Linked DNA regions of Homo sapiens: all the other regions are linked to region 2. Evidence: fine-mapped expression QTL. A gene starts in region 2. Each other region holds a variant in brackets. All regions are shown on one strand. Distances are from middle to middle. Region 1 overlaps UBE2O (ubiquitin conjugating enzyme E2 O). Region 2 holds the start of SPHK1 (sphingosine kinase 1). Region 3 has its middle 8.9 kb from the start of PRPSAP1.

What was found. PIP is the estimated chance that this variant, and not a neighbour inherited with it, causes the effect.
Region 1: its variant is fine-mapped to the expression of SPHK1 in whole blood (INTERVAL, PIP above 0.99).
Region 3: its variant is fine-mapped to the expression of SPHK1 in esophagus mucosa (GTEx, PIP above 0.99).

Annotation. Positions count from the first base shown.
Region 1 is chr17:76,402,182-76,409,017 of GRCh38, forward strand. UBE2O (ubiquitin conjugating enzyme E2 O) reads right to left here. Exons shown (of 18, transcript NM_022066.4): 2 at 3,332-3,391; 3 at 3,025-3,135; 4 at 421-518. Among named protein-coding and RNA genes, the nearest start is that of SPHK1, 21 kb to the left of the region's middle. The variant C/T (reference allele first, on the strand shown) is at 3,259.
Region 2 is chr17:76,381,640-76,388,475 of GRCh38, forward strand. It overlaps SPHK1 (sphingosine kinase 1), which reads left to right and starts at 2,970. Exons shown (of 6, transcript NM_001142601.2): 1 at 2,970-3,167; 2 at 3,812-4,015; 3 at 4,346-4,498; 4 at 4,582-4,676; 5 at 4,754-4,869; 6 at 5,167-6,216. The coding sequence starts at 4,006. The coding sequence ends at 5,947. RefSeq lists silencers at 1,608-1,897, 1,918-2,057, 2,638-3,337.
Region 3 is chr17:76,359,440-76,366,275 of GRCh38, forward strand. No RefSeq gene overlaps it. Among named protein-coding and RNA genes, the nearest start is that of PRPSAP1, 8.9 kb to the left of the region's middle. The variant A/G (reference allele first, on the strand shown) is at 4,119.

The sequences.
Region 1 (6,836 bases), 21 kb after region 2:
AAGTTGCGATTCTGAGATGCCAATGCGCCCACATGCCCTAAATAGCACAATTCGTCTTCTACCATCAACTCAGCCCGAGGTAGTACAAGAAACTCTCCCACAACGAACAAGACCCCAAGTGCCACTGGAGTGCTTGCTCAGCACCATCACAGTGCCTCAAGTAAAGCATCAGCCTCTAGCAGATATCCTCAGTGAAAACGTTTCTCCCCATGCCAGGACAGATCAGAAACTGAGCAACAGAAATAGGCCACGGCAGATAAGGAGAACGGTACAGGGTTAGGCCCTGGATGCCTGCAACATCTGTCACTGCCCTTGATCAAACCTGTCATCACTGTCCCCAGGAGGAAACACCCTCCTCCTCCCCTCTTTCCAAGAGGCTATCCTTCCCAAGCCGATGGCTCTCTGGTGGTGAGACTCTACCTGGCGCCGTTGGATAGCTTCAGGATGATCTGGTTCTTCAAGTCGTAGACCTTCCCCAGCCAGCAGTCATAGGCAATGTAGTCCCCATACATGAAGGGCTGCAGACCAAGGAGGCAGGGGCAGTGAGACACAGCAGACAACGTTCATGTCCAGGGCACAGATTCCTCTATGCCCCACCGAAGACAGGATGGGGGAGGATCTAGACAGCTCACTGACTGGACCGGTTGGCTACTAGCCCTAAACAGCTGCTGCAGCAGGCCCTCCCTACAAGTTCTAGGCTGCATCCCAGCTGCTCTTCCCAGTGAGGAGGAAGTGGTGGTGGTGGTGGGGCTGCCTGGAGGGAACGGGGTGGGTGATGCAGGGGCAGAGAGGCCTGATGGCATCCATGGACATGGGACATCCATGGACACAGGACACCTGGCAAAGTAGGCTGTGGAGGTGGCAGGCAGAGGAGGCAGCCACACCACTGGGGGGTGGCTACATGGACAGTGCTCTGAGTAAATACGTTAACACATCAAGGATATCGAGAGCCAAGTCCCTCATTGTTGGAGAAGGTGCCCAGGTGTTTACTAACAGAAAGGGAGCAGGAAGGAGAAGAAGGAAGAGGAGTCTGAGGTGTTTAGGTGGAAGTGGATCTATCAGGATGAACTCATATATTTTATTTTACTTTATTATTATTTTTTTTAGAGACAGGGTCTTGCTCTATTGCCCAGGCTGGAGTGCAATGGTGTGATCTTGGCTTAATGCAACCTCCATCTTTGGGCTCAAGCGACTCTCCCACCTCAGTCTTCTGAGTAGCTGGGACTACAGGCATGCATCACCGTGCCTGGCCAATTTTTTCATATATTTTGGTTGAGATGGGGTTTCGCCATGTTGCCCAAGCTGGTCTTAAACTCTTGAGCTCAAGTGATCCATCTGCCTCAGCCTCTCAAAGTGTTGGGATTACAGGGGTGAGCCACTGCGCCCGTGAACTCTGCCTGAACTCATATATTTTAATATACACATAGAGCAGGTAGTGACATATTTAGATGTGTGTATACATATAATACATATGTATTTCCTAGTGTGTCCCAAAAGAGCCAAGTAGCAATTAGCACACCTAGCATCCAGATCTTGGGTTTTAAAAATACCATTCTCTGAAAACAATGAGGCTTCTTGGAGAAATGGTTGATTCTGGGGCTGGATCACAAAAAGTACAAGATGAGCCTGGCACATCTCATGCCAGAAAGAAAGAAAGTTCTTAAAAAACCAACAAAAAGGGCCATGTGAGAAGGACATGAAAGCCAGCTTGAAGGGGTTCCCACTGGCTAAATCTGGGACCATCCAAGCAACAGAACAGATAATAGTAGTAATTAATTATAACCAATGAATAAAACAGAAATCTCTAAGTCCATACTGATAAAAAAAAAGAATACATAAATAGGGCAGAAGATAAAGCTCTTCTACAGAGCAGAATGCCAGCTAAAAGAAATGAGGGGAACAAGGGAGTCATAGAACCACCATTTAGCAACATCAGAGCAATGGCTGGCGCAGGGGGAACTGTGAATGGAGGCCAAAGCTGGTGGATTTCAGTTTGACAAATGACAGGTTATAGACATAATCTGGGACTACGTTCCCACAAAATACAATCACTTAAAGGGGGTAAATGGTGAGTTTATGGTGGAGAGACCTGGTGGACACCAACATGACCAGGGGTAAAAGTGAACAACCCCAGCACTTTGGCTATGGGGTACCATGAACCAGGGCAGAGCTCTGCGGCGGGCCTGCCAAGAACACGTGGGCATGAGGCAACACCAGGAAGACCCAGGCTGAGGGTCAAATTACTGAATGTATCACTGTTCAGGGCATGGAAGACAAAGAAAGGCTGGGAAGCGATTCCAGATTGGAGAGAAAATGAAGAGATGACAACTCAATGCAAGATGTGTTCCTGAATTGGGTCCTGGATCCGCAAAGAAGAAAAGAGTAGTGTTGGGACAACTGCATGTGGTCTGTGGACTGGACAGTAATTATCAACGTTGATTTCCCAATCTGGGGGTTATATGGTGGTTGCACAGGAGGCTGTCCTCATTTTTGGAAAACACACAAGAGGTGTGTGTATTCCGGGGTGGGTGACAGGGCATCACATCTATAGCTTGCTGTCAAATGTTTTGGGAAGAAAAAAGACCGGAGGGGGATCTCGGGGAAAAGGAGGGAGGGAAGGTGATGGAGCAAACGAAGTGAAATCTTAACAGCTGAGGAACCTGGATGGAGGGACACAGGAATTTACAACTTTTGGTAAGTTTGAAATCATTAAAAAAATAAACTATTTCCAATAATTTATTTTTTTAAAGAAATGTTAGAGGAGAAAGGAAAAACACTTAAAGATAACCACACTGGCAGCCTATGCTGGGGTTGGGGAAGGGCACGTCCTGACCTCATGTCTAAATGGCTTACTTGAAAGCAGCGAAAACAAGGCTACAGGAGCCAGCTGGCTGCTGTGCTCCGCCTTCTGACCCAGGAAGGCTGTGCTTGGCAAGAGCACGGAGGAGGCTGTAGCCCAGAGGTCGTGCCGCCGAGAGAACCAGAGGGCCCAGAAAGGATGATGAGAAGACAGGGCCGGCTCACCCAGATGTGCTGCAGGTCCTTGCTGTTGACGGGATAGATGATGCAGTTGGTGCCGATGAGCTTGACGGCACAGTCGATGTTGACGTCGATCACCGTGCCACACTGACTGTCCTGGGGGAGGGAGGAGACATGCAAGTCCCGTGGTGCAGCAGCCCTGGTCACCAGGGGAGACCCAGCCCAGGCAACCCCAGCGCACCCCCTGCAGAGCTGGCCAGTTCTCCCACATGCAGAGTG[C/T]GAGGTGGGCAGGCTCAAGTCCCTAAGGTGGCTGCCCCCAGGCCCGGGGCTGGGGTGGGGACGCAGGACTCACGGTGGATCGCATGTGCCGGACCACATCTCGGGGCACCACAGAACGGTCCTCTAGTTTCAGCTGTAAAAGAAAATACAGGTGTGAGAGAATGGACTCTGAAGCCACCACAGAATACAGTTTTCTTCCAGCTTCTGAAGGAAAGCGTCACATCCACACTGCTAAGTGCACAAATCCTAAGCGTTTGGCTAGCAGTATCTTCACAGACCGCACACACCTCCGACCAGCACCCAGACCCACAGGCAGAGCGCGTCACGCCCACAGGCCTCCTGGGGCCCCTGTGGTCACTGTCTCACCCACCAGAGGCACTTGGCTTGCCGGAGGTAGCCTTCCTCACACTGAACAGTGCAGCTCAATGACAGATCACATAAGGCTGCACTTTAATGAAGGATTTAACAGCCCATTCTACAGAGAGCAAAACATTTGCTTTGCGTTCAATCTTTTTTCTGCCCTCTGCAAGTGCCTGCCCTAGCTGATCAGTGCTGAGGGAGAGTGGGCTGGGGGAGAAGCAGGACACTGGGCTGCGGTGGGTCACCCTGAAGCCTGGCTATCACCGGACACCATGTTCTAATCTGGGTTATCCTCCTGACCAGCTGCGGCCTGCACCTTATCTGCTGCGCTTGGAGCCCTGCAGGCTGCTAAGTAACCCTCAGGATGGTTGGCTCTTGGAGCCCGGCCAACTGCACGAGCACCTGATTGTCTCTTTACGCACAGCTGGCAGCGGCCACTGCCTCCTGCTGCTCCATCGCCCAAAAGCCCAGGCACGTGATGCTCCCACCAGGCCAGCCTGCGTCTTTTTTAGCTGGTTCCTCAAACCTGGGGCAGCTCCTCTATGGTTCTTCACTGGGTCATAATCATGGATGGGTCTCTGTGTGTGTCCACCTCCGAGACCCCAAACCACATGGCTGGAGAGCTGTTTCCTCAAATAGCCAACCAGACACTCCTCCGTGGTGGCCTCTCTTGACCTGGGGGCACTGAGAGGTCACCACCAAGAAAGGAGAACTGAGTCGCCGAAAAAGGAAGATACTGGCTCAAGGTCACTTAAATGCTGGCAATGACAACTAAAACAAACTCTGCTAGTAGAAGAACGTGACTCACAAAAAAAAAAAGGAAAGAAAAGCAATGAACCCCACCACCAACCAGCAGTGCAGAGAGTCCCATGGGAACTCATGAGCCCAAGTTGTTTTTTTTTTTTTTTTTTTTTTTTTGAGATGGAGTCTCGCTGTGTTGCCCAAACTGGAGTGCAATGGCGCAGTCTCGGCTCGCTGCAACCTTCGCCTCCCAGGTTCAAGCAATTCTCCCGTCTCAGCCTCCCGAGTAGGTGGGACTGCAGGCACGTGCCACCACGCCCGGCTAATTTTTGTATTTTTAGTAGAGATGGGGCTTCACCATGTTGGCCAGGCTGGTCTCGAACTCCTGACCTCGTGATCTGCCCACCTCAGCCTCCCAAAGTGCTGGGATTACAGGCGTGAGCCACTGCATCCAGGTATGAGCCTGTTTCAAATGACAACTTGCCCAGTCCTTAAACGCAGGGTTCTTGAGTCAGACACAGGAACGTCAGGCAAACCACTCCTGCCGACATGTGGAAGGAGAGATGATGGCAGCTGTCTCAGCATGGCTGAGGTGGAGTCACCAAGGCAGCGGACCGCAGGTGGCACATGGTGCACGGTACAGAGTAGGTGCTCAGCAAGGTCGGCAGCTGTGATCACTGGCCCTGTGAGCTGCAGGGTGAAGACCCCTGAAAGGTCAGGCTCTCCTTATCTCTGCTCCAAGACCCCAGGAGGCTGGAGAGGCATGCTGGCGTGACGGTGCCACTTTTCTAAATCAAAGAATATTCTGTGCCTGTAACCCTCTGTGCCCAAATCTCCACTCTGAGATACGGCATTTTTTTGTGCTGCCCCACCCTATCTTAATCCCCTGCTCCCATTTTAGACTTCAAAAAGCCACAATTGCTCCCAGAGAAGCCAGAAGCGGCAGGACAGGAGAATCCAATGCAAGGGGGGCTGCACCATGTGTGGCAGGAGGGCTGCCTCCACCACTTGGGGGTCCCTGAGAGAGCAGCCAGGAAAGGAGGAGAGAAGAACGCAGACACAGACCTAAATCAGTGCCGTCACTGATGAAACACCCTGTTCAGCCTAACAGCACCCTTGGGAGTGCAGGGGAAACCGAGGTGTCAACTCTGAGGCTGAAGCAGAAAAAAACAGCTGGTGAAAGCTGGCATCATGGCAAGGCCAGAGGCTGGCAGGGCAGGCAGTGCCCAGTGCTCCCAGGAGAGGGAGGCTGGCAGCAAATGCCATTCTTCCCGTGGGGTCTCCAGACAACAGCAGCTCCACCTCACCAGGATGCTGCCTCCAGGGGCTCTTCTGACCTTTCTATGACAAGGAGTTACATTTCTCCAAAGACCTGATGGTGCTGGGAGCAGAGTGGGAGCGACAAGGGGCTGGGGGATGGTAACATGGTGGCTACACTCCCTTCCACTGGGAATTAGAACCCAAGACAACGGCATGTGGAAGGACTTAGGATGACTTGGGAGGCTCTTGTGACTTTCCTTCCTAACTTCCTATACCCCACCCATACTGGGCACTGGCTTTCTCCAAATAAGCCCATACCCTCCCATCTGTGAGCCACTCCACTGAACAGTTACTTCCAAATGTCCTCCTCTCCCTGCCCCCGTATGCACAACCTGCTTCACAAAGCCTTTCAGTGCCCCCGTCAGGAAGGAACCGACGTGCTCCTGGCGAATGCAAGAGCTCTGGAGTTTTTCGCCTCATGCTAACCAGGTGCTTCCTACCTGGCAGACAGTTCTCCAAGCGTTTCACTGTCTTCGCCCATGAGGTGCTCCACAACCCATGAAGCACATCACTGCCATGCTCATTTTGCAGATACGCAAACTGAGACCAAGAGAAAATAAGCAACTCATTCAATGTCACAAGTAGTGGAGCTGGGACCTGAACGCAGGCAGTTTGGCTCCAGAGTCCATTCTCTTAACCAAATAAAAAGCTCATCTCTCCCCAGAGCTACAGAGACAGGGAAAGACTTCTGGCAGGTCTACACATTTAAAGACAGTGATTCTTCTGCTTATGAAAGAAAGAAAAACTCTCTTCATTTCTGAGGCAAGTGGAAGGCAGCAATGGTGGCCACTGACTGCGGATGCCTGCTAGGCACAGTTTGCCCTCCACTTCCCCTTCTACCTCCAAAGAGCAAATGACAGGTGCCAGCCGGCCTGGCAGGTGAACACTAGAGGGCACTGTGCCCACTCTGGGAAAGCACCAGATTTGTGAACAAAACTAAACCTTGGAATAAACCCAATCCCTACTGTTAAGGGGTGCCCTGCTTGTAGTTTAAAAAAAAATTGTTACTAGGAGGGGATCTGGGGTCGGGGGTGAAGAGATTTCAACTGTCCTCATGGGCTCTGAAATTCTAAACAACCTCAGAGTTGGTGAGCTATTTATTGTCTAACATTTCTTTTTTTTTTTTGAGATGGAGTCTCACTCTCTGGCCCAGGCTG
Region 2 (6,836 bases):
CAAGTAGCTGGGACTACAGGTATGCGCCACCACACCCGGTGTAGAGACGGGGTTTGAGACGGGTTTCTCCACGTTGGTCAGGCTGGTCTCCAACCCCCGATCTCAGGTGATCCACCCACGTCGGCCTCCCAAAGTGCTAGGATTACAGGAGTGAGCCACTGCGCCCGGCCTGCTGCTTCCTCCTCCTCAGGGAGACGCCACAGCTCTGCGGCAAGCAATCCACCAGGCACCAGATCCCCAGATACCTGCCCTTCAGGGAGAAATAGCCTGGGATACAGAGAGGCCCAGAGGGGAGCTCTGGCTGGACTTGGCTTCTCAGCGTGGGGTCTGGGTTCACAGGTTTGCTTCTCTGCTTTGTGGGGAACTGGTTGGAGGCTTGTGCAAGCCTCTTCACCTCTCAGGGTTTCAGGCCCCCCCAACTCCTTCCCGCCTTGTCCTTTTTTCTTTTTTAAAAAAGGAAGTAAAGTACAGTGGGAAACGGGCCAAGCTGGCAGCTTGAGAGATCCAAGTGCCCGCCCCCCGACCCGCAACCGTGGGAAGGGGAACCATCTTGCTCTTGGCCAATCCTGCCTCTCTGAGCAGGGATGCAGCTGGGGGAGTTTCTGGAGATAGGATCAAATTCTTTAGAAAGGGAGAAGGGGAAAGGGGTCTGGAGAAAGGCAGCCTGGGTTGGGGGAAGTGAATGACAAGAATGAGGGGGGCAAAGGCCTTGGAGGTGAGGGGGGCAGGGGGTTAGGCGCCAGGGAGGACAGAGGACCCATTGTGCGGCCTGGAACCGGGGCCAGAGGGCTTTGCCCTTCGCCTCCCTCCCGCGGGGCCTTCCAGAGCCAGGAGGGGAGCTGGGGCCCGGAGGCGTTGGATAAAGAGCCCGTGCCCCGCCTCCCCTTGCCAACTCAGTTTGCAGTCAACCCCGCCCCCGCCCGCTCCGCGGACTCAAGGCTGGTGGTAGTGGGCCTGGAGGCGCAGGATCCGACCTTTCTGGGGCCCCAGGAGGAAAAAAAAAGGGGGGACCCTGAACCAGGTGGGCTTTATCACCACGAACTCACAGTGCTTCCCTGTGCCTCAGTTTCCCCTCTTCAGACTCTATGGCTAATGACAGAGCTTTTCAGATTTGGTGGAAATGCTCTCCGGGGCGGGGAGCAGACGGGGAAGGCTGCCCCAGCTAATCTCCGCAGCCAGTACCCTCGAAGGCTGAGATCTCGGGGAGCACAGCCTCCGATTCGCGTTTTCTAGGCACCAAAGTCCCTCGCTGGAGGAAGAGGAGGGGAAGAAGGCAGAGGAGAGGGGAGGGGCGGACGGATCTGGTCCTGGGCTCCCGCGCGGAGCCCCCTCCTCCCACAGCCGCCGCTCGCGTCCCCGCAGCGCATGACCGCGGCACTGCGGCTGCAGGGCTCTCTCCCCCGCCCGCGCCGGATTCCTGGAGCAAGGGGGTGGGGGGCTCGGAGGTGCAGGACCCATCATTCCGACACGCGCCGCGACGCCAGGAGTCGGGGATGACGCCCCTGCTCCCTCCCCTCGTTCCTGTTTCTCGGAGTTTTTCGACCCCTGAGCGCGTCGCTGAGTCACCTTCCCGGAACGCGCTCGGGACGCTCTGGACCCAGCGGGGACTGCCCGGGGGCCGCGCAAGGCGAAGGCGCACCCGCCGATACGCGCGCGGAGCTGCGGCCCCAGGGACCCCGCGTCCCAGCCAGTGCCCCCCGACCCGCCCGGGGACTCTCGGGTCCCGCCCGTCTGACCCCCCAAGTGTTGGGAAACGGGGCCGAGCTGCCTGGGTCCTCCGGAAGAGAAGACACCGCGGAGGCGTGCCGGAGTTCAGGGCGCCGCCCGGCTAATTGGCTGCGTGCTCCTCCTGGACCTGCCTCTTCTCGACTTTAAGAAGCGATGAGAGAGGTGTGTGGGGGCGGGTGGGGCCGGCGGGGGCGCGCGAGCCCCGCAGCCTCCCGCAGGGGCTTGGTTTCTCCTAACTCTGGCCCTACCTGGGCAGGTCACCAATGGGCCTTGGCAACTTCTTCCTCCGTCTCCGCCGTAACCCCCCAGGGATCTAACTCGAGGTGCTCGCGGACACGTTCTGTGGCTTGCCGCGATAAGTGTATCACAAACACACTGACAAACGCGTCCCTACTGGCCTCCAAAGAAGTGACAACTTCTGAGCGCGTTTCCGGCGCCCCTTCTTCACGCTGAGCCAGAGGGGGCGGGGGGCACGTACCACATGCTTGGCTTTCCAATCCCGACGGGGGCCCCCAGGCCCATCTACACTGTCAAGCCTCCTCTCCGGCTCGGAGCCCCCGGCCTGTCGCCTGCTCTACCCGGGACAGCGCGCTAGGCGGCCTCAGGCTCGGTAGCCCAGCTGCAGCGTCGGGAAGTTAAAAATAACCTCCGTGGGAGCGCGGGGGAGGAAGAAAGAGGGAAGCTGGTGGGCGGCGGGCGAGACGCCCCGGCCTGGAGAGGCGCCCCGGGTGGCGTGCGGGCCTCGAATTTCGGGTGGGCTAGGGCAGAGCGCGCAAAAGGGGCGCTGCATCCCGGCGCCGACAGCACCCGCGGGGGCGAGGTCGTGGCGTCGAGGTGAAACCAAGGGTCCCCCGGGAGAGCGGAGCCGCGCGCGCCCGGCGCTCGCTCCGACACGAGTTCGCGCGGAGCCCGCGCCTCCGTCTGCGCTGCGCGGTCGCTTTCGCGCGCCCCAGACACTGCGCTCGCGGCCGGGCCCGGGACTCCGCGCCTCGCGGCCTGCCGCCTCAGCTCACCCGGCCAGGTCGCGGCGCCGCCTTCTAGCCAGACGCCTAGGACGAGCGGCGGGGGCGCGCTTGCCGCTTCCTAGGACCCGGGCGGGAACCAGCTCGTGGCCCGGCCGTGGGCGCGGGCCGTGCCGGAGGCGGCGCGCTGAGGCCGGAGGCGGGCAGAGGCCGAGGCCGCGCCGGGCTCAGGTTCCACCCCCGGGAGCGCGGGGCGGAGCCAGGCCGGCGCCGAGGCTCAGTGCCCTCCCCGCTCCGCGGCGCCGGCTGCGAAGTTGAGCGAAAAGTTTGAGGCCGGAGGGAGCGAGGCCGGGGAGTCCGCTCCAGCGGGGCGCTCCAGTCCCTCAGACGTGGGCTGAGCTTGGGACGAGCTGCGTTCCGCCCCAGGCCACTGTAGGGAACGGCGGTGGCGCCTCCCCAGCAAACCGGACCGACTGGGTAGGGCCGCCCACCCTGCCTTCGCGCCGCTCGTGGCTCCTGTGCGGCCCGCCCTCGCGGGGCCCCGGGAACTGGGCCACTTGTCGCTTGGGCGAGAGCAGGCGGCAGCTGGTGGCCCGGTTCGGGCTTGGCTTTGGCGCGACCCGGGAGCGGCTCCCACGAGCGCCGCGCGCGTCGCAACGGAGCGGGGCCCTGAGAAGCGCGCGCCGCGGCTCCCACCGCTCTGGAGCTCCGGGCAGGGGACACGGCAACCTGGATGGCTGGGGCAGGGATCCTCTCCCAGAACTTCGTGCCCAGCAATGTCCGCTCAAGTTCTGGGATTTTTACGCAGCTGGACTCCCCTCCCCCTGGCAGCCCCGAGGGGTGAGGAGCTAGTCCGTCGGAGGGAGCCACGGGGCTCTGACTCATCCGTCGGGCCGGAACCGAACCCCAAGCCCCAGGGAGAAAGCCCCGGAGCAGGCGCCCTTCTCAGGGATTGTAGGCTTAGTCACACGGCGGGGGCGCCCTCGGAGGCACCGGACCTCAGCTCTCTGGACTTCCCGGGAACCTGGCTCCCCGCGCGTGGTCCCGGGATTTAGTCGGGCGCTCCCCACCTCTGGCAGCTGCGGCCCCGGACTCCGCCAGCGCTGTCTTCTCTCCCTCAGGTCCAGCCGCCGCAGGGAATGACGCCGGTGCTCCTGCAGCCACGGCTCCGGGCGGGGAAGGCGAGCCCCACAGCCGGCCCTGCGACGCCCGCCTGGGCAGCACCGATAAGGAGCTGAAGGCAGGAGCCGCCGCCACGGGCAGCGCCCCCACAGCGCCAGGGACCCCCTGGCAGCGGGAGCCGCGGGTCGAGGTTATGGATCCAGGTTTGTGGGGTTCCTGCTGGGAAGGGCTGTAGGGGGATTCCTGTTCCTCGCCAGGAATGATGGAACGCCCAGCTGGACGAAAGGGGCTGTGGACGATCGGGAGAAACATTATCCCTCACGAGGCCAGAAGCCGGCCGAATCTGAGCCAAGGAAGGGGGTGGCAGGGGCGCCGCGTCCCCACCCCAGGTCTCCCAGCAAAGGCCGCTCCTCTGGCCAGGGTCAATTACCGGGGTGTTTCGGGCACCAAGTTCCCACACTAGTGCCCCATTGTTACCCGTGGCCCCCTAGTGGTCGGTTGCGGACGTGGCCTCTTTGGTTTTGTTTTCTCAGCGGGCGGCCCCCGGGGCGTGCTCCCGCGGCCCTGCCGCGTGCTGGTGCTGCTGAACCCGCGCGGCGGCAAGGGCAAGGCCTTGCAGCTCTTCCGGAGTCACGTGCAGCCCCTTTTGGCTGAGGCTGAAATCTCCTTCACGCTGATGCTCACTGGTGAGTACCTCTCGGAGGGGGTTTCGGGAGCATCCCCTGGCAGGGGACCCCCCCAGTCCTGATAGCTGCCGGTCTCCCTGCAGAGCGGCGGAACCACGCGCGGGAGCTGGTGCGGTCGGAGGAGCTGGGCCGCTGGGACGCTCTGGTGGTCATGTCTGGAGACGGGCTGATGCACGAGGTGAGGACCGCACTGCGCGGCTAGGCCTGGGGCTTGGCGCGGTGCGTCCCAGGCTGAGGCCACGTGTGCTTCAACAGGTGGTGAACGGGCTCATGGAGCGGCCTGACTGGGAGACCGCCATCCAGAAGCCCCTGTGTAGCCTCCCAGCAGGCTCTGGCAACGCGCTGGCAGCTTCCTTGAACCATTATGCTGGGTGAGAGCCCAGGGCCAGAGTAGGCCTGTTTCCCGTCAGTGCTCCTCTACCGCGGGGGTTTTCTTGTCTAAGCTCCCATAGGCTGAGATCATTTCCATTTCCCCTTCTCCCTTAGTCCTGGGGCCCTCTCCTGGTGACCCCAGCTGACTGCTTCCATTTGCTCCATCTGTCACCTACCAGTCCTGCCAACTCCCCAGGGACCACATGGCGCTTTGCCAGCTCCCACTCCCCGGGAGGAGGAAGCGGGGGATACATGGGGGCTCCTGTCCTGCCTTATCTGACTTTTTCCCCCTGCAGCTATGAGCAGGTCACCAATGAAGACCTCCTGACCAACTGCACGCTATTGCTGTGCCGCCGGCTGCTGTCACCCATGAACCTGCTGTCTCTGCACACGGCTTCGGGGCTGCGCCTCTTCTCTGTGCTCAGCCTGGCCTGGGGCTTCATTGCTGATGTGGACCTAGAGAGTGAGAAGTATCGGCGTCTGGGGGAGATGCGCTTCACTCTGGGCACCTTCCTGCGTCTGGCAGCCCTGCGCACCTACCGCGGCCGACTGGCCTACCTCCCTGTAGGAAGAGTGGGTTCCAAGACACCTGCCTCCCCCGTTGTGGTCCAGCAGGGCCCGGTAGATGCACACCTTGTGCCACTGGAGGAGCCAGTGCCCTCTCACTGGACAGTGGTGCCCGACGAGGACTTTGTGCTAGTCCTGGCACTGCTGCACTCGCACCTGGGCAGTGAGATGTTTGCTGCACCCATGGGCCGCTGTGCAGCTGGCGTCATGCATCTGTTCTACGTGCGGGCGGGAGTGTCTCGTGCCATGCTGCTGCGCCTCTTCCTGGCCATGGAGAAGGGCAGGCATATGGAGTATGAATGCCCCTACTTGGTATATGTGCCCGTGGTCGCCTTCCGCTTGGAGCCCAAGGATGGGAAAGGTGTGTTTGCAGTGGATGGGGAATTGATGGTTAGCGAGGCCGTGCAGGGCCAGGTGCACCCAAACTACTTCTGGATGGTCAGCGGTTGCGTGGAGCCCCCGCCCAGCTGGAAGCCCCAGCAGATGCCACCGCCAGAAGAGCCCTTATGACCCCTGGGCCGCGCTGTGCCTTAGTGTCTACTTGCAGGACCCTTCCTCCTTCCCTAGGGCTGCAGGGCCTGTCCACAGCTCCTGTGGGGGTGGAGGAGACTCCTCTGGAGAAGGGTGAGAAGGTGGAGGCTATGCTTTGGGGGGACAGGCCAGAATGAAGTCCTGGGTCAGGAGCCCAGCTGGCTGGGCCCAGCTGCCTATGTAAGGCCTTCTAGTTTGTTCTGAGACCCCCACCCCACGAACCAAATCCAAATAAAGTGACATTCCCAGCCTGCTCGTCCTGTCCTGGTGACTGGGGAGAGAATGGGTTCTCGTTCTGGCCGGGACTATAGAATTTAATGGTAATGATGGCCAATGGTGCCCCCTGGGATGGGCAATGGATTTTACTGGCCCCAGGCATAGTCATTCTGGTGGGGGACTCAGGACCAGAGCTGGTTCAGCCTAATGGTGGGGGGGCCTCTACCACCCTGATAATTATAGCACCTCCAACCTGAAGCAGCCTCAGAGCTCAGCCAGCTGCCTGACCACACACAGGATGCAGCTCGGAGCTGGCATGTCTCAGCCAGGGCCACACAAGCAGCTAGTCCCAGCAAATCTCATCAGAGCCCCATGTGGATTTAGCAGGAAAGGGGAAATATCTGAGTTAAGGGCATTAGAAAACTGATGGGCCAGGCGTGGTGGCTCACACCTGTAATCCCAGCACTTTGGGAGGCTGAGGTGGGTGGATCACTTGAGCCCAGAAGTTTGAGACCAGCCTGGGCAACATGGTAAAATCTCATCTCTACAAAATGTGCAAACATTAGCAGGGTGTGGTGGCGGACACCTGTAGTCCCAGCTACTTGGGAGGCTGAGGCAGGAGAATCGCTTGAGCCCGGGAGGTTGAGGCTGC
Region 3 (6,836 bases), 22 kb before region 2:
ACTCCAGCCTGGGTGACAGAGCAAGACTGTCTCAAACGAAAAAAAAAAGGTTTGCTTTTAAAAGAATCATTGATGATGGGGAAATGCTCATAAACAAAGTGGCAAAATAACCTGACTTAGACATTATCTGAGTCATATTTTCCTGCATGTCTTAAGAGAAAGAAGGCGCACAGGGACGTGTTTGAGGACCTGAGACTCCCTTAAGAGGCTTTTATTATTTTTATTTATTTATTTTTTAAGAGACAGGGTCTCACTATGTTACCCAGGCTGGACTCAAACTCCTGGGTTCAAATGACGCTCCCGAGCAGCTGGAATTGAGGCTTTTATTATTGAAAGCCTAAATTCCCAAAGGCAAGAACTGAAGTGTCCCTGAGTGCCCCAGCCTTGGAGAGGGGGAGTCCTCACAAATTGAAGGGACAGTTGGACGAGGAGGTGGGGACTCCAACAAGTACCCTGGGGACTCTCATAAAGATGAGGAAAGAATGAAGACCGGAGGCTCTCCTTGAAGCTCAGGAACTGCGGAAGGCCCTGGGGCTCTTTTATGTACCAGTCCTGGCAGAGGACTTGGAGTCAGATTTAATCTTGTTAAACAGAATTTGTGGCCCAGCATGGTGGCTCACGCCTGTAATTCCAGCACTTTGGGAGGCCGAGGTGGGAGGATCACCTGAGGTCAGGAGTTCGAGACCAGCCTGACCAACATGGTGAAAGCCTGTCTCTACTAAAAATACAAAAATTAGCTGGGTGTTGTGGCATCCGCCTATATTCGCAGCTGCTAGTGAGGCTAGGGCAGGAGAATCGCTTGAATCCGGGAGGCTGAGGTTGCAGTGAGCCGAGATCGCCCCATTGCACTCCAGCCTGGGCAACAGAGTGAGACTCTGTCTCAAAACAAAAAAGAGAGAGAGACTCTCTGAAATAAAGCAACGTTTATTTGGGATCGGGCATGACAATGGGAATATGTGTGCCATAGTAAACTATGTGTGTATCCAACTAGGTAAAGGAGGACGAACGTTTTTAGAGGAAGATTGAGGGGGATTACACAATTGTTTTGGGATAATTTTCCTTGGCTACAAGGATCAACAACAAGTGTGACCCAGTGCCAGGTTGTACAGGCAGTTGCTGGGCAGATGCCCTCGCAGAAGTATTTTTTGTGTAAGGTTTCAGTGGCCTTTGTGCAAGGTTGTGATTTTTGCTGAGTCTTCCGTGATAGTTTTTGTTATCTGGCATTTATGCATAAGAACCTTCTCTTTATAGCCTTTCCCAGCTCTATTTGTCAGAGCTTTTTGTTTTGTTTTAACACAAGTGACTCAATTTTGCTTCTGACAACTTCCACAGAGTCTTCATTTTTACTGATGGGTCAGGGATTTTTTTCTTTCTTTCTTTCTTTTTTTTTTGAGACTGAGTCTTGCTCTGTCACCCAGGCTGGAGTGCAGTGGCACAATCTCGGCTCACTGCAAGTTCCGCCTCCCGGGTTCACGCCATTCTCCTGCCTCAGCCTCCTGAGTAGCTGGGACGACAGGCGCCCGCCACCACGCCTGGCTAATTTTTTGTATTTTTAGTAGAGACGGGGTTTCACCGTGTTAGCCAGGATGGTCTCGATCTCCTGACCTTGTGATCCGCCCTCCTCGGCCTCCCAAAGTGCTGGGATTACAGGCATGAGCCACCGCGCCCGGCTGATTTTTTCTTTTTTTGAAATGAAGTTTTGCTCTTGTCACCCAGGCTGGAGTGCAACGGCACAATCTCGGCTCACCACAACCTCCGCCTCCTGGGTTCAAGCAATTATCCTGCCTCAGCCTCCCAAGTAGCTGGGATTACAGGCATGCGCCACCACGCCTGGGTAATTTTTGTATTTTTAGTAGAGATGGGGTTTCAACCATATTGGCCAGGGTGGTCTTGAACTCCTGACCTTGTGATCCGCCCGCCTCGGCCTCCCAAAGTGCTGGGATTACAGGCGTGAGCCACCGCGCCCGGCCTTAACATGTCTTTTTTGACGTTTGAAGTGAGACTTCACTTGACCAGTTTTGTTTTTTTTACCGTTTCTCTTTATAAGACCAGACTGACTCTTGAGGTTCCAGACCAGCTGGATACCTCCTGCCAGAACGAAGACAGCTGTGCCTCCACAAAATGACATTTTGCATCTACAACCCTATTTCAGTTTTCAAGTTTTAAAAAATGAGCTGCTTGTTAACCGGGCCAGTTTCGGCATGAATTATAGAAAGATCTCCTCTGTACTAGAAACTAGAAGACAAAGGGTGGCATAAGTAGAGATTTGGCATGAAATATTGTCCAGGAACAAACAGGACAAGACAAAGAGGGGTGTGTTTAGGATTGCTCAGCCCTGTCCCCAAGGGAGGAACTAATTGGAAGACAAGGTCAGTCTTTGCAAGGATAAAGAACATTTCAGGCAATAATTCAGAAGTTTTGCATCCACGTTGCGCCACTCCAACTTGAACTTTGGAAAAATATGAGGCCTTTCCCTGTTTTCATTCTCCAAACAAGCCTCAGCAAGCTGGGACTGAGTGATCTTTATTTCTAAAAATAATACCAACTTGGATCTCTAAGCTGATTCTCTCTATAGGGTACCAGAAACCATGCTGGGGGCAGGAGCAAAATACAGGCAGACAGAGCCAAGCCTGCTAGGAGTGACCCTTCCCAGCTTCAGCAAGGACAGTGGTAGGCAGCAGCTGCTGGGCTGGTCTCTGGAAAATCTGAAATGGAATCACAAGGCACTGAGTCCTCGACCTCACCTATGCCTCGGTTTCAGTAGCTCTTGGTGGGAGTCTTTGGAGGCATTTGAGGGGGTCTGAAATGCCCGAACATCATTGAAGACTTTGGTTCAAGTGGAAACCCTCAAGGGGCTTCTAGTGCCTTCTCTCTGTGCACCGCAGAAGCTCCTGCCAAATGACATGCTTCCTTGCCCCTATGGCCGGATTCATAGCTGCACTGGCAAGATGGGGTGGAAGAGACAGAAACGGAGCAAGGAAAAAGGCCAGGGCTGTAGGGGCTGAGAAGGCAGGAGGCAAACACTAAGGAGACATTATAACAACTCAGGAGGCAAATGATTCAGGAAGTCACAAGGTTCTTGGCTCAACTGTGCCAAATTTGTCAGTTCAAGAGGGTCCAGGTCTATGAGAGCTAAAAACCCCCAAACAATGCAAATGTCCAAAGGCAGCTATGGGCCGGCCATGGAGGCTCACATTTATAATCCCAGCCTCCCTTGGGAGGCCAAGGCGGGAGGATCACCTGAGGTCAGGAGTTTGAGACCAGCCTGGCCAACATGGTGAAACCCATCTCTACTAAAAATACAAAAAACTAGCTGGGCATGGTGGCAGATGCCTGCAATTCCAGCTACTCAGGAGGCTGAGGCAGGAGAATTGCTTGAAGCTGGGAGGCAGAGGTTGCAGCGAGCTGAGATGGCGCCACTGTACTCCAGCCTGGGCAACAAGAGCAAAACCCTGTCTCAAAAAATAAAATAGTAAAAAAAATAAGGCTGGGCGTGGTGGCTCACGCCTGTAATCCCAGCACTTTGGGAGGCCAAGGCGGGCGGATGGCTTGAGCCTAGAATTCAAGACCAGCCTGGGCAACATGGTGAAACCCTATCTCTACAAAAAACACAAAAGTTAGCTGGGCATGGTGGTTCATGTCTGTATTCCCAGCTAATTGGGAAGCTGAGGTGGGAGGATCCCTTGAGCCCAGGAGGTTGAGGATGCAGTGAGCTGTGAGACCCTGTCTCTTAAAAAAAAAAAAAAAAAAAAGGCAATCAAAGTGAGACAGGAGAATAGGATCTGGAAGCAGGGACTCTAAGGACTTCCTAGAACTGAATCAAATGGAAACACTTCAACTATGACAGGAAATATCCTCTCCATTTACATAGGGCGTACACCGAGTGAATGACTTTGTAACTTTACTTCATCCCTTCATTTACATAGGGCGTACACCAAGTAACCAATGGAAACTTCTAGAGGGTATTTAAACCCCCAAAAATTAGCCCCTATGCTCAGGCTGCTCTCACCCTGTGGAGTGTACTTTTGTTTTGTTTTTTCTTTTTTTTTTGAGACAGAGTCTTGCCCTGTCACCCAAGTTGGAATGCAGTGACACGATCTCAGGTTCAAGAAATTCTC[A/G]TGTCTCAGCCTCCTGAGTAGCTGGGATTATAGGCATCGCCACCACGCCCAGATAATTTTTGTTTTGTTTTGTTTCTGAGACAGAGTCTTCCTCTGTTGCCCAGGGTGGAGTGCAGCTGCACGATCTCAGCTCACTGCAAACCCCGCCTCTTGGGTTCAAGCGATTCTTCTGCCTCAGCCTCCTGAGTAGCTGGAATTACAGGCACGCACCACCACGCCCAGCTAATTTTTGTATTTTTAGTAAAGATGGGGGTTTCACCATATTGGCCAGGCTGGTTTTGAACTCCTGATCTCGTGATCCGCCTGCCTTGGCCTCCCAAAGTGCTGGGATTACAGGCATGAGCTACCGCGCCTGGCCTAATTTTTGTATTTTTAGTAGAGTCGGGGTTTCACCATGTTGGCCAGGCTGGTCTCGAACTCCTGGCCCCAAGTAATCCGCCTGCCTTGGCCTCCCAAAATGCTGCAGGGATTACAGGCGTGAGCCACCGCGCCCGGCCTGTACTTTTGTTTTCAATAAGTCTCTGCTTTTGTTGCTTCATTCTTTCCTTTGTTTGTTTGTGAATTTTGTACAATTATTTAAGACACCAAAAACCTGGACACCCTCCACCAGTAACAAAAGGATTTTCCCCAAAGTATATTTCTTTTTTTAAATTTTGAGATGGAGTTTCGCTCTTGTCTAGACTGGAGTGCAATGGTGCCATCTTGGCTCACTGCAACCTTGGCCTCCTGCCTCAGCCTCCCGAGTAGTGGGATTACAGGTGCCTGCCACCATGCCCAGCTAATTTTTGTATTTTTAGTAGATGGGGTTTCACCATGGTGGCCAGGCTGGTCTTGAACTCTTGACCTCAGGTGATCCACCAGCCACCTTGGCCTCCCAAAGTGTTGGGATTACAGGCATGAGCCACCGCGCCTGGTCTCCCAAAATACATTTTTTTGACATATTTTGAAATGGCCCTCCAAAGCTTTCTTTTATGGGGGAAATCTGCATTCTGTAGAGAATCCCCTTCCCTTCTCAGGTCTCTCTGGAGAGACTGGCACCTGTGACATTCACATCTCTTCTCTCAGAAGCCTGCTACCTGAAGGCGTCATCTACAAGACAAGAACTTTGGCTTCCACAACCACCCACCACTTACCATAACTCAAGCTGATTTCAGCTCTTCAGGCAGAGCTTACCATTTTCAACAAATTGCCAATCAGCAAATGTTGAAATCTACCTATGACCTGGAAACCACCCCCACTTCAAGATGTCCCACCTTTCTGGGCTGAGCCAATGTATACCTTACCTCTGTCCATTTATGTCTTTTCCTGTAACTTCTGTCTTCCTAAAATGTATAAATCAAGCCTTAGGCCGGGCACAGTGGCTCATGCCTGTAATCCCAGCACTTTGGCTGGCCGAGGCGGGCGGATCACTCGAGGTCAGAAGTTTGAGACCAGCCTGGGCAACATGGCGAAACTCCATCTCTACTAAAAATACAAAAAATTAGCTGGGTGTGGTGGCGCGAGCCTGTAATTCCAGCTACTTGGGAGGCTGAGGCAGGAGAATTGCTTGAACCCAGGATGTGGAGGTTGCAGAGATCGCACCACTTTACTCCAGCCGGGGAAACAGAGAGAGACTCTGTCTCAAAAAAAAAAAAAAAAAAAGGCTGGGTACAGTGGCTCATGCCTGACCCTGCCTGGAGGTTGCTGTGAGAGCTAAATGAGATGGAGAGTGGATGACAAGGAGGAGTGAGGTGCCCTGTGTGATCCTCCACGTTTTCCTGGAATTAGGAGAGCCCACCGCTGAGAATAAAATGCACCCCCAATTCTTGGTTCAGGGAACCACCCACTGAGGGGGCTGGCTGGGAGATGCCTCTCGACACTGACGCTGTCAACCCTGTGTGGAATTGAGAATTCCACTGGCTTTTGTTCCTGGTTCCTGGGAGGTAACCTGTAAATCCTCAGAATTTCCTGAGTGATAGTAGTGTCTGTGTTACTCACGATCGGGCCTCGGAGGACACCCGATCATTTATGCAAATGACTCTAGGTCCAGGAAGACCAACCGTGAGATTAGAAGGCTGTGGCTCTGGAGCCTGGGTGATGGAAGGTGATTGAGGCTACAGTGAGCTATGATCCTTCCACTGCACTCCAGCCTGGGCGACAGAGGGAGCCCTTGTCTCAAAACAAACAAACAAACAAAAAAATTTAAAAATTAGCTGGGTGTGTTGGTGCATGCTTACGGTCCCATAAGAGGGACCATAAGGGAGGATCATTTGAGCCCAGGAGTTTGAGGCTGCAGTGAGCCGTGATCACACCACTGCACTCCAGCCTGAACAACACAGCAAGAACCTGTCTCAAAAAAAAAAAAAAAAAAAAAAGCAGAAAGAAAAAGAAAACAAAATTAGAAGGTTGGGTCTTTGAGCCACTTGTTATCAGCCTGACTTCCGGGGACGGAGGGGCTGGAGCTTGAGTTTAGTGTGTGGTGTATGATTCCTCCATCATGCCTGCATATAAAACCCCAAGGACAACTCTACACAGAGGCTCGGGTGAGCTTCCCTGGTTAGTGATGCTCTGTCTATTGTCACAGATGGAGGTACCAGGAGGGTTAAGGTGTCCCTGAGGATAACAGCGCTTTGCACCGGGGACCCACCCAGCCCGGACGCAGTGCTTCTGGCTGTGGCTGGTTCTGATTCGTGTTCTTTTGCTGTAATAAAACTGTAAATGAAACTTCAGCATTTACCT